Regions from separate parts of the Homo sapiens genome. Here region 1 is linked to region 2. A link means that fine-mapping ties the variant in region 2 to the expression of a gene that starts in the linked region. Tissue or cell type: whole blood. Region 2 holds a variant in brackets; the other region holds the start of a gene. All regions are shown on one strand. Distances are between the middles of the regions.

Region 1 (2,611 bases), 52 kb before region 2:
AGAGTATGAATAGTTTAAATTCCAGAACTGCCTTGGATTTCTAGATGTCGTATGTAACTCCAAAACCAAACAATAGACATGCTTAAGAATATTCACAATGTCCCTAAATTAAAGCATATGTTTATGCTTCTCTTATGGGGGAATAAAGTGGTTTACAGGCTTCTGGTCAATTCATAGGTCATATTGTTTACTTTTATTTAAAATTAAGTTAGGTCTGCCTTTTTAAAGGTAAGAAAAGTTAAATTTTAGACGAAAGTCTAAATTTGTTACATTCAAAAGGAATTATGTATTAAATTCAAAAGACAATTTAAATTCAAGTTCTATTTTTTTCTGCATGTGCTTTAAAGTTGAGTTATATACACCTAAACAAATTAAAAATTATTCAACTGGCATATACATTGTAAACGAATATCTCATTTAGGAACCAGATGATACTTTATATATATTTACACATATGTTTATATATATACACACACACATACATACATATATATTCAAAATACAATCAGGCACTAGACAAAATAGTCATATTGTTGGTATTACGATTTTATAAGTTTGTTTTGTTCTGATTTGCATTTGAAAATTAGATCAGCCAAAACTTGATGGCAAATAGTCTGATTTACAGCCCAACTATGACAGTCAAAGGAGACACCAGAATTACCCGTCACTAAATCCCATCACCAGTATTACCAGGGAAGTGGGTGAGGACTGTCAAGGGCATTACAGGTAATGGAACAGCAACACACAAAGATTTGGGGATTTTAACAAACTAAAACCAGTATTTCACGAACACCTAATAAGGACAAGATCACAACCTATCCCCACATGGTCAAATTAACTTGGAAAGGAGAAAAACTTCACTCTGACATCGATTGGTACTGCCTTCTTTGGGGAGGAAAAAAAGCATTTTTATACTCTGAACTCTGTCGTTCTCATAGACAAAGTTATAGCAGTGTTTGCAGAGAGTAGGGAGTATCCCATCCACCACTTATTTCTTTCTCATATCTACTCAGTAATTCAATACAAGAAAGAAAAAGATAACCAGGACTTAAAGCAAAAACAGAATTCAGTTCCATGCTCCTCCCAAGCCTTATTATTTCCAGGTGTTATAACTGGGAGTTCCGCGGACAGATTTGAGTTCTACTTCCGCTCCTTTAACCCCCTATTCCGAAGAGTCCAAGAGCAGCAGCAAAGAAAAAGACCAACTCGAAAGTGGGGAAGGGATGTTGGGGTTAAAGAGGGGAGTTAAATAACCAGACCTTTAGTGAAGAATAAAGAATTCAGGCTGTAGTTTGTAGAAATAAGTTATTACAGGCCTGTAAAGTCTGGCGCTGGGTAAAGCCCAAGAGGCTTTCCCTAACTCCAAAACGGCGACCTTTAAAGTAAGGGAGGGTTGGGGCACCACAGCGGCCGGATTTCTAATTGTGGAAAGTTTAAACAAATTTGTCCCTCGGGGAATGGGGGAAGGGAGAGAAGAACAAGTCTGGGCTCGGCCGGGGAGCGTGCGGAGTCTGCACGCCGCGGCCGTCGGTCCAACGCGGGGAGGCTCAGGGATTTTCGGCAGCAGCGACTTCATCCACCCCGGACCGCCGGCTGGAGGACGTGCCTGCAGCCGGCGGGTACCTGCGGCCAATTCGGTGGAACGAGGACGCGGACTGCGAAGGCAGGTGGGTCTGGCACGAAGGGGCAGGAGTCCTAGGCTCTGGGTGGAAGTTGGGGGTGGGACGGCGCCGGGAGGCCGGGGAGGCAGCGGCGAAAGGCGGCGGGCGGCTCTACTTACTCGGCTGTACCAGATGCTGAGGCGGGCCGCGGCCAGCACGGCGAAGAAAGCCCTCTGCGGGTCGGACTGAACGTGGAAAGGCGCCTCGGCCGGGCTCCCCAGAGGGCACAGCAGCCTCTTGGGCCAGCCGCTCAGAAAATACATGGTCCGTGCGGAGCCCCCGGCGCCCCCAGTTGCGTCCGTCACACTCAGCGGCCCCGGGCTGGTCGCCCACCTCCCACACCGCCACCGGCCGAGTCGGCGGCGGCGGCGGCGGCAGCTCGGGGCATCTGCCCGCTGGCCTGGCCGGGCCGGGCCGACGCAAGGCTGCGCGACGAAGGCACCCCCAAGCTGACGGGGCCGAGTGTGGGGGAGGGAAGGGGAGGGAGAGTAGGGACACAGAGAGGGCGGGAGGAGCGCGGAGGCCCGCCCCGACCCCGCCCCTTCCTCAGGCCGCGCGGGCGTCACCACGCCGCGCCGCGTGGGTCGGGCCGGGGAGGGCCCGCGCGCGCGCTCTGGAGACTCCTGCGGTCTCCCTAGCTGTTTCTTGAAGCTCTGCATAAGCCTCGCCCGCGGCCGCCGGGTTGCGTCCGCACTTCTGCGCGCTGGCCCCTCCCTTGCTCCTCTCCCTAGCAGTCTCCAGGGTTTTACCGGGAGGACCTAGGCAACGGCCTGAGACTCCGAGGCAAGTGGGGCGAGTCTAGGGATAACGCAGCAGCAAGGCTACTGGGCCGGTGGAACACGCCCTGGCCTGGCCAAATTGGACCTCCCTTCCGGATTGGCGGGGTCTCGGTGGGGGCGGGCCGGTTGCCGGGGGGAGCTGGAGTCACGTGACGGCCGGCGCGGTTTCCC
Region 2 (2,763 bases):
TTACAGGGTCAGATGCCACAGAGTTTAAGACAATTCCTTGTGCTACAATCTAATTGGAATTTATAGTCTCTTTATTTTTTATCTCTTAATGGATATGTCTCCACTTCATCCAGATAGATTTTGATTGAGGAGTGAGTTGGTTATGTACCTCCTGTTCTCAACTCTAAGTCCATCCTCCTCTCCTCTGCTCTGATGTGCCAGGGCTGGAATTTTGACAAACTTCATTTGCCAGCCTCCCTTGCCAGCTAGCTTCCTGTTAAGTTCAGTAAATGGGAAGGCCTTGGGGACTGGAAGGTGGGAGGGGGAATTATTTCCTGTTTCTAGTTCCTGAATGTGTCATGCCTGTAGCAATAGGTAGTAGAAAGGTAGCTGCTGTCTGTAGTTCTAATATTTGGCATCCACTTTTTTGCTCTTTCAGTCTTCTTATATCTTTATTACAAGTTCCTAATATTAAATACACTCTATTTTTATGACTGGACTCTGGCTGATACTAGCACTTGATACTAGGTGTGGTCATAGGAAACAGATTCTCAAATTCTGACATTCTGGGATTGATTTGATTTGTTGTTAGTGTTGGATTGGTTTGAATTGAGAGCTGAACTCTTTGCCACTAGTAATCTATGGCATGCATTGACATCATGGTTGATTAAATTATCATCTGTTCTTGCTAGGGTTGAATACCAATGAAAGGCAAGTTTCTGGAGGCCAAGTAGCTGTTGCATTTAACCATTATGGTAGTAAAGATGATTATAAGGAATGTAATGTGGGATGGCTGCTTCTGATTGCACCAGGGTGCTTACAGGAAGAAACTAACAAGTTTAGGGCTTTCACCTCAAATCATATTCAGAGCACCAGAGGGCTTCTAAGACTGCCCTGAAAGTACCTCTTATTCCTTCTAATTACAGGAATCACTAGACATGAAAGACATGACTGAAAAATTCAACCCAAATCAATCATTCACAGACTGGCTAAGTCTCATATGTGAAAGTTTTCTCAGTAATTTGAAAGGAGTAGGACTCTGAGACTAGGAATGGGGACATTTTGGTGGATTTGGATGAAACTGAGAATGTTGAAACCCCCAAGCATCCCTGAGTTTCCCTTGATAGTGGAAGAAGCCTCTCATTTCTTGTCTAATGATATTAGCCTTTCCTTGTTTGAAAGCCTGTAATAAGCCCATATGAGGCACTTGCCTTGCAAGGGAGATCCCTATTCTTTCTCAGCCCCAGTGCTCCCAACTCTCATGGCCTTTATTTAGAGTCAGTTCCCGGAATATACGGAGGTGGGAAGAGCAGAGTCTAGCTCAGCAGGAAAAGTCTTATACTTCAAAAGAATCATAAGATTTTGTTAACTTAACATTAGAGGAAACCAGGCTAGTATGTATGGGGATGAATTCTAAAGGTATTAGACCCAGGAGCACAGAAGATAACATTGAACTGGGGCCAAATTAAGGTAGTCCTGATATACTACACTTTCCAGATAGTTTTGGACTTAATGTTGTAGATGATTACAGTAGTGGTATCACGCCTTCATGTAATTCCTTTACACATTGATTTTTGGCATGGTTATGTGCTTGCTTTGGATAATGGAACATTATTAGCAAATGTGATACAAACAGAGACTTGGAAAGCACTTGCAC[A/G]TTGGGGTTTTCTTTCTTTTTTGCTGTTTTTGGATTAGACTCTATGTTGAAGATGCCTGGACTAACCTACTGAAGATACGTGGTTTTACCAACAGCCAGCACCAATAGGAAGATATGAATGAAGCCATCTGAGACCAGCCATCTGGCAGCCAAACTGCCAACTGACTGCAAATGCATGAATGATCCCACTGACACCACGTAGAGCACAAATGAGTTGCCTCCACTGAGCCCAGCCCAAATTGTTATCCTATAAAATCATAAAAACATAAACAGTTGTTTTAAGTCACTAAGTTTTGGATAGTTTGTTATACAACAAAAGCTAGCTGAAACAAATGTATTAGCTAGAGCAGCTGTGAATGGCACTATTTGCTTAGTTGATTGGCTGAAATTTGGACTCACTGGTAGGTTACATTTAATGGTGTTGAGTTGCCAGAATTTCTCTGGAATAATGTATAGGAAGGATTCTAATGGCCTAAGCCATTAGAATCTCTAAGGAGATAGAAATAAAGGAGTGATTTATTATATGTAACTGTGCCTCTTCCCTCACCACACTTGGTCCTGAAAGAGCCTAAGGAATAGTTTCTTCTCTAAAGCATTGAAAAATGCTTTAATGGGAGAAGCCCCAGCACCCTTGAACATGTTCAGGCAGCTGCTTTCTATAGGCCAAGGATGTGGTGGGAAAATCTGCCTGATCTCAATGTAGATGATGAGATCCCAGAGTAGCGATCAGCATTTTTTACCAGCAGGAATAATCTTTGGTGGTGGTTGGCTCTAAGAATTAAATAGATGTGGGCCGGGCGTGGTGGCTCATGCTTGAAATCCCAGCACTTTGGGAGGCTGAGGTGGGTGGATCACCCAAGGTTGGGAGTTCAAGACCAGCCTGACCAACATGGAGAAACCCCGCCTCTACTAAAAATACAAAATTATTTTTGTATGGTGGCACATGCCTGTAATCCTAGCTACTCAGGAGGCTGAGGCAGGAGAATCGCTTGAACCCGGGAGGCGGAGGTTGCAGTGAGCTGAGATTGTGCCATTGCACTCCAGCCTGGGCAACAAGAGTGAAACTCCGTCACACACACACACAAAAAAAGAATTAAATAGATAATAGATGTGTAGCCTGCCAAAGC

Evidence for each region. PIP is the estimated chance that this variant, and not a neighbour inherited with it, causes the effect.
Region 1: INCR1 starts here. The variant in region 2 is fine-mapped to the expression of INCR1 in whole blood (TOPMed, PIP above 0.99). The same link has a PIP of 0.9 or more in lung.

What each region holds. Positions count from the first base shown.
Region 1 is chr9:5,628,623-5,631,233 of GRCh38, reverse strand. INCR1 (interferon stimulated noncoding RNA 1) reads left to right here and starts at 1,507. Exons shown (of 3, transcript XR_007061406.1): 1 at 1,507-1,667. RIC1 (RIC1 partner of RAB6A GEF complex) reads right to left here and starts at 2,127. Exons shown (of 26, transcript NM_020829.4): 1 at 1,781-2,127. The coding sequence starts at 1,924. RefSeq lists an enhancer at 1,307-1,807 and a silencer at 1,828-2,367.
Region 2 is chr9:5,576,423-5,579,185 of GRCh38, reverse strand. The region is part of intron 1 of INCR1 (interferon stimulated noncoding RNA 1); the gene reads left to right. Among named protein-coding and RNA genes, the nearest start is that of RIC1, 51 kb to the left of the region's middle. The variant A/G (reference allele first, on the strand shown) is at 1,637.